Linked DNA regions of Homo sapiens. The protein of the gene in region 2 purifies or fractionates together with the protein of the main gene of each other region. This does not show direct contact. Each region holds a gene or a part of one and is shown on either strand. Other genes may lie near its edges. The genes, in order: TES and SNN.

What was found.
Region 1: the proteins of SNN (region 2) and TES purify together in Homo sapiens (affinity purification with mass spectrometry; 2 studies listed by BioGRID and IntAct, with this or other methods). This does not show direct contact.

The regions. Positions count from the first base shown.
Region 1 is NC_000007.14:116,234,405-116,238,315, reverse strand, and holds part of TES (testin), read right to left. Parts: intron 3,783-3,911; coding exon 3,697-3,782; intron 2,449-3,696; exon of another isoform or gene 1-2,448. UniProt on the Homo sapiens protein: Scaffold protein that may play a role in cell adhesion, cell spreading and in the reorganization of the actin cytoskeleton. Plays a role in the regulation of cell proliferation. May act as a tumor suppressor. Inhibits tumor cell growth.
Region 2 is NC_000016.10:11,666,738-11,670,648, reverse strand, and holds the start of SNN (stannin), read right to left. Parts: upstream 2,195-3,911; 5' UTR 2,109-2,194; intron 1-2,108. UniProt on the Homo sapiens protein: Plays a role in the toxic effects of organotins. Plays a role in endosomal maturation.

The DNA.
Region 1 (3,911 bases), on a different chromosome or scaffold from region 2:
GATACACCTTGATCCGGCATCTTCCATTCACCTCTCCAGATTCATTCTCCATGCCTCAGTACTCTGTGCTATTTCCCAGAAGGCTGATCCTTAAGGACTACACCTGTGGGATCCCTTGTCACTGGCAATGGGACAATGGGAGGTGCCAGCAGAAAATCAGAGTGATGAAGAATGAGGTCTGGGTATTTATCTCCTGGCTTTCTGTAAGTATACAAGGTGATAAAAAGGAAAATGATTCCTAACAACTTGGGGGTATGTGGAAGCAGGGGAAGGGGGTGCTGTGGGCTGAACTGTGTTTCCTCAAAGTCATATGCTGAAGCTCAAACTCCTAATGTGACTGTATTTGGAGCAGGGGCTTTTAAGAAGTAAAGTTAAAAGATGTCACAAGGTGAACGTCACAATCCATTGGAATAGGTGACCTTATAAGAAAAGGGAGAGAGATCTCTTCCTCTCCAGACACACACACACACACCCACACACACCAAGGAAAGGCCATGTGAGCACGTGGTGAGAAGGCAGCCGTCTGTAAGCCAGGAAGAGAGACCTCACCAGAACTCAACCATGTTGGCACCTGATCTCGAACTTTCCAGCCTCTAGAACTGGAAGAAAGTACATTTCTGTTTAAACTACCAGGTATGTGATATTTTGTTATGGCAGCCTGAAAAGACATACATGGGCAGGGAAGACTTCTCAGAGGTATTTCTTGAGCTGAGACTTTTTGTTTCCTAGTGGTGGGAGGTAGGGTTTTCCAGGCAGAGAACACCATGCAATAAGGCACAAAATTTCAGGGAATAGTATGTATCAAGCACTTGGATCATAGAGTGCTTGGAAGGGAAGTGGAAGAGGCTGGAAAAGCAAGCAGAGGCCAGATGTTAGGGTTTAATGTCAAAGGCCAAGAAATTTGCCTAAAAGAAGTCCAGTGGGAAACTACTGAGGGTTCTTAAGTCATCTGAAGTATGTAATAGTATCCATGTTCAAAAGACCATTCTTGTGATTGTGTGAGAGGCCAGACTAATAAAGAGGTAGAGAATAATTTAACTCTGATTTTTGAAATGTGCCCGATGGAGCCCTCAGGGTCCTAAGTCAAGGATCACCATGAAGCTGGAGGAGGAGGCTAAGTGGGCAGGGTCATGGGATCCCATGTCTACTTCACCCACATAAGTTCTGTGGCCCTAGACTAGACCTGGAATCTTTGTTACACTCAGGACAACTAGTCTAGAATATTTTACTTCAAAGACTGTACTGAAAGAGGCTACATAGGGAGGTCAAAGGCACCTGCTTCAGCTCTTTTAGCTATGGTGAAAAAGTCAGGGAATTATCAAGAATTCTGAGAGAAATGTGACTGGACCCATGCCAGGAAGATGTCAGAACTACTAAGAAATACCAATGGGGTGGACTGTTATCAACCCCAGCTGAATGACAGGCCATATGCAAAGTCCTAGACTATTATGGCTCTTAGATTTTCAGACTACACCCAGTTGATTAAATGAGTCTGTGTGATAAATTGAAATGTAAAAGGTTATTTTCATGCCATGGAGATCTGCTCTTGTCGGATATATTTTCATCTGAAAATATCGATTAAAATGATTAATATAGACATAACAAAAATGACTAACTTGCTTTAGAGAAAAGATGATATCTCTTAGGAATGAGCTTTAAAATCTCACGAGCGGTTTTTGGCAACTGCATAGCAGAACTAAAAAGAATGCAGGTTAAGTATCTCTTACCCAAAATGTTTCACAAGTAAAATAAAACAGAAGTGTATCAGATTTCAAATTTTTTTTAAATTTTGGAATATCTGCATAAACAATGAGATATCTTGGGGATAGGGCCCAAGTTTAAACATAAAATTAATTTCTGTTTCATATACAGCTTATGTACATAAGCTGATGGTAATTTTATACATATTTTAAATAATTTTGTACAAGACACAAAGGTTTGAATGCATTTTTGAATGCAACCTGTCACACGGTCAGGTATGTGAAATTTTCCACTTGTGGCATCGTGTTGACACTCAAGAAGTTTTGGTTTTGGAGCATTTTGGATTTTGGATTTTATGTATTATAAGATTGTAAGGTAAAAACTATGCCCAGGAGAGGGCAGTGCAGCCTTCTGTAAAGTTAACTAATAGGCCCAATAGAAAATAGTGTGAGCATTAAGAGCAGAGATGTTCTAATTCATGAAAACTATTTTGTGTTAAGTCACTTTACCTTTTTAAAACATGAGAGACATACTGCCACTTCTATGTCCCTTGAAGAGACAGCACAAGGGAGAGCTGCTTAAGTCTTGTAAAAAAAAATTCTGGAAAACTTTAGCTCCCTAAAACTGAAGAATTGTATCAAAACTGAAGAACTGTATCAGTTCTAGCAGGTTTCTACTGACTTTCCTATTTTAAACAATTATCTTTGTTTCTGAAAACTGATTCAATAAACTAGTTTTTAAAAGAGATTAATGTCTAAAATTTTATTTGTTTATATTCTCCTTTAATTTACACTGTACACATCTCCAAGAGCTGATGAAAGTATTCTAAACGGTTTCCTGTGGAAATCTGTAGTACAGAAGTGTTTCTCAAATGAGAGTCATCCTAACAAGGTAGCTGCCATCCTAAAACTGTATAGTTATCTTTATTTTTTTTTCCTGCTAATTCTAACTTTGAGCAGACTTGTGAATTACCACTATGGACTTGACAGTCATTCATAAGCACAGGTTTCAAATACTGATTTTAGATTTATATGATATGCAGTAGTACTTTCAAAACAACCTAAAGATAAGATCTATAGAAAATTCACATTTTTGACTCACTAACATTGTCTTGTGTATATATGCACTTCATTCAAACCAAGACACTACAATTAATTTTTTTCTTAAAAAAATTCAAGTGTTTCAATGGTTTTTCACTAGTAACTTTACAGCTAAAAATTTTAAAGAGATCTAAATTCAACTTCATTTCCTGATAACTAACATATACATGCTTGATTCAGTATTCATATTTGTTTACGGAAAATGTAGACATGAGATGTAAAGTTACCAATTTTTAAGAAGAGAATAATTAAATTATTAAACAGGGCCAGGCATGGTGGCTCACGCCTGTAATCCCAGCACTTTGGGAGGTTGAGGTGGGCTGATCACTTGAGGTCAGGAGTTTGAGACCAGCCTTGCCAACATGGCGAAACCCCATCTCTACTAAGAATACAAAAAAGAAAAATTAGCCAGGTGTCGTGGCACAAGCCTGTAATCTCAGCTATTCAGGAGGCTAAGGCAAGAGAATCGCTTGAACCAGGAAGCGGAGGTTGCAGTGAGCTGAGATCACACCACTGCACTCCAGTCTAGGTGACAGAATGAGACTTCGTCTCAAAAAAAAAGTAACAAATAAATTATTAAACAGTCCTGGAGGATTACCACAAACTTATTTACCACCAGAAAGATGATATATTCAGTATTTCAGGCTCGAAGGAAATCTTAAAGACAGCAAGCAAATCCAACAACTCTAAATAGTTATTATGGTCCAATTCACTAAGTCAAACTTAATGACAGTAAGACAGAACACTTTTTATGTTGTATTCATTTCTCAGAAAAGACAGTAACAGGTCTGCAACTTAGCAACCATGCTGGAGAACTCGAAGATATCTCCACTGTCTGAGGAAGTATTGCAAAAAGTATAAATTACTAATGTGGTTGCAGTTTTCAAAACAATACCTCCAGAAGTGCAGTTCGAATCCTTCACATTTTTCTTTGCATTTTAAACAAGGGGCTCCAAATCCTTGCTCGTGACCTAAGCCCATCTGTTAAAAAGAAAACATCATGAATCTGTTATTAGATTCTTTACAAATCTAAAAATTCAATAAATTGCACTTTTAATTCCACTTACCACTTGTGTTGAGATAACTTTCAAACAAATCTTATATTTAGTC
Region 2 (3,911 bases):
TGCGCAAAGCGGATACGAGTCCCTGACCTCATCTACCAGGTCGTGGGGAGGATGAGAAGTGGTAAGAAAAGTGAAAACAAAAGGGACATGAGGTCACCAGGTTTGCATGTCACCAGCCACACCTTCCTGTGTGCTACAGCAGGGACAAAGGGAGAACACTGAGCCCGAGGGATCCCCAAGCCCACCCCCAGGGCCAGAAGGGCACAGAGCCTGGCCCAGGCCCAGTGCCACAAACACCCCTTCCCCAGGGACACGCTGCCTCCTCCTAACTCAACCGGGCACATCATGAGCATTGCCGGGCTCACCACCAGCAAAACACCCCCGCCTTGCAGCCGCCACCTCCTGAGGCTCCTTGACAGACGCCAGGAGGGCTGCCCTGCTTACAGGGGACCAGCCATCCCTACGGGGCTTTCAGTACTGCCTCCCCCCATAAAGCCACCTGCCAAGGGTGCCAACAAACTCTTCAGCGAACCCCGGGTCACAAACCAGAAACGTTTCCTGCCCCAGGTTCTGACTGGGAAAACAGGGTTGTAGGGAGAAGAGGGCACTGCTGGACACAGCCAGGACGAGGCGGGACGTCCGTTCTGCCCTGGGCCTCCAGCAGCCAGTGGGACACAAGGACGCATCACACAAGGCCCCAGCCCTCCAGAAGCCAGGACCAAGAACGGCCGGATGCCAGTGGGACTGACACTGATGGGGCTGTGCCCAGCTCTCTGGCCAGTGTTATCTCATCCTCCACCCCCACCCATGACACCCCCATCCTCAGAAGAGGAAACTCGCTCCAGAATCCCCTAGGTTCCCCAGTGGCAAAAGAGGAAGCGGGAGCCCGCAGAGCTCTGAACCGGGACTGCCCCAAGGTCAGTCGGGGTCTTCCTCGGGCCAGGCCAGAGGCTCATGCCCCCACCCTGTGAATCACCCGCTGGTCATTTTCACAGGCTGCCCCAGGGTTGGCCTGTTTGGCCAAACAACTTTGCTTGTAGATGCCGGAGAAAGTTGGTGGCAATTATATGTGCCAGACACTGAGATAAACAGCTCACGCAGATGTCTCCTTTCTGCCTCAAGACAACAGGGCAGTTGAGCTATTACTGTTCCCTCTTGGCAGATACAGAAATTGGTGGCTCAGAGAAGTTAAGTCCATTGCCCAAGGTCACACAGCTCAAAAGTAGACGCGCAGGGATTCAAACCCAGGCAACCTGCATCCAAAATCCCGCATTTCGACCCTGACTCTAAAATGCCACATTCTCCCTACCTCCTCTCCCGCGTGCCTGAGGGGCCGCGGACAGGTGAACCCCAGTGTGGCCCTCGCTGGGGCGGGCTGGGCGACCTGGGCTGGGTGCTGGGGACTTAGGGGTGACAGCGCCCCGGCGGCTCCCGAGTGCTGAGCGCGGGCGGCGTGGCAGGCGCGGTGCCAGGCGCGCTCCGCGCACCCTCCCGTTCCACCCTGCCCGGCGGCGCCGGCGTCTCCCCCACTCCACGGAGGAGCAAAGCGAGGCTCCAGGGAGGAGGGGGCTCGGCCCAGGGGGCGACAGCTGGAGAGGGGACGGCAGCTGGGGAGGTAGCTCGAATCGGCCCGACGGAGGCGGGGTGTGGGACGGGGACCAGGGGAGCTAGGCATGCCCACGCCGCGCAGCCGCTGCCCACGGAACCGGGCGCCGAACGCTGCGGCCCGGCCTCAGTTTCCCTACCCGCGAGACGGGCGCCGGACGTCACCTGGACCCCTATCCCCGGAGCCCTCCCCGGAGCTCCCAGAATTTTGAAGAACCCCGAAATGCCGGGGGAAGGCGGGAGCGTAGCTGAGGACGGGCGGGGGCTGCACGGGCGGGGGCGAGCGCCCCGCGATCCCCACAAAGCGGCCTCCGCCCCCCGCCGCCTCCTTTGTCCGGATCTCGCCGCAGCGCCGCTGACAAAGAACCCCAGCCCGCGGGCGCGGCCCCTGGAACGGACCCTCCCCCGAGCCGCGCCCGCCGGGCCGCCCCTCCCCCGCCCGCAGACCCCGGCCCGGCCCCGCCGCCGCGCGCGCCCCTCCTCGTCCTGGCCTCCCCCTTCCCGCCCCCGGGCCCCGGCGCCCCCGCCCGGCCCGAGCGCGCGGCCTGCCCCGCCCGGCTCACCATGGCGCGGCAGCGGCCCGGCCCGATCGCCCCGCAGCAGCCCCGCGGGCCCGGCTCCGCCCGCCCGGTCCGGCCGCCGCGCACTCGGGACGCAGGAGCCCCGCGCTGCGGCGGGCGGGGCCCGGCTCCTCCCCGGCTGGGGACGGGGCCTCCCAGAAAGGCCAATGGGAGCCCGCGCTGGGACGGCGGGGCGGGGCGGGCCGGGGCGGAGTCACGTGTGCTCGGGGCCGGCAGGCGGTGGGGCGGGGGCTGCGCGCGGCGGGCGGGCTCGGCCCTGGCGAGCGCGGATTGGGCGCCCGTGGGTACGGGGCCCCACTACAGGCGCCCTTCCTCTGCCAGCCTCATCCTGACCCCGGCAGGCTGCCTTGGTCCCGCCTGCTTACAGCGGAGGAAACTGAGGCACGCTGCACGGAAGAGTGCTGCATACTCCTCGAGAGCTGAGAGCGGCGGGGAATCCGGGGCAGGGGCAGGGGAGAGGCGCGACCGCTGAGGTGAATGACCTTGCTTCGGGAGGAAGCTGGGCATCAGTCGTTCGCGAATTCATTTATGTATCATTCATCCGCCCAGTCAGTCGATGGCGGAACACTGACCACGTGCCTGCCACGCCAGTCGTCGTGGGAGCAGCCACGAGCCAGACAAGGTCCCGGCCCTGACGAAGCTCTCATTCCTCTGCGGGATGAGGCTGTGAGGCATTTGCACCCCTCTGCCACCTATAATCATAGTTATTTTTAGCATAATTACCCGGTGGTTTGGCCCCCACCAAATGCCTGCCCTGTATAAACAGCCCAACACATTTTATTAAGATGACTCCGGAAGAAAGAATCTTCCCATTTTACAGATGAGGAACCTGAGGCTCCAAAGAGCTGAAGTCCCACAGCCTGCTCCTGATGGAGAGAGGGTTTTGAGGCCAGGCCTGTCTACCTGGGAAGACAGAGGCTCCAGTTATTGGAGTAATCTCCACTCATCCACCCCAAGAAGGCCATCGGCGAGAGGACACCCCAGCCCTGGGGCCCACAGAAGGGGTGAGGGTGGGTCCCTCAAGGCTTCTGTGGCCCAGGGGACTTGAGAAGACAGGAGGGGGCAGGGCGAGCTGGGACCTCCTCCTGGGAACGGGGGCCTTATTTGCTGGAAACTTCTTTCCCATTCTCAAGCAGAAGCCTCTGGAAGAGCATGGCGGGTTGGGCTCACGAGGCTGAGGTGGCCAGGCCCTCACTCCCTCCACTCAGCCTCGCTGGGCTTTCTTCCCTGCGCCCAGTGCACCAAGCCTTTCCCACCGCCAGGCCTTTGCCTATGTGGCTCCCTGCAGCTGGAACTCTTCTACTTCATCTTCCCGATCTCAGCTTAAGTGCCCCTTCCTCAGGAGGGCCCTCCCTGATCGCCCAGCCAAGAGTAGCTCCCTTGGGGTTTTTTGTTTTGTTTTTGAGACGGGGTCTTGGTCTGTCACTCAGGCTGGAGTACAGTGGTGCAATCACAGCTCACTACAGCCTCCATCCAACTCCTTCCTGGGCTCAAGCCATCGTCCCACTCAGCCTATATCTATGAATGTGGGCAGATTTGACGAAGCAATTTTTTTTCTTTTTTTTAGAGAGAAGGTCTTGCTCTGTCGCCCAGGCTGGAGTACAGTGGTGCAATCATAGGTCACTGTAACCTGGGCTCAAGCGATCCTCCTACCTCAGCCTCCCAGGTAGCTGAGACTACAGGTGCATGCCACCATGCCCGGCTAATTTTTTAATTTTTTGTAGAGATAGGGTCTCTTGTTGTTGCCTGAGCTGGTCTCAAACTCCTGGGTGATCCTCCTGCCCC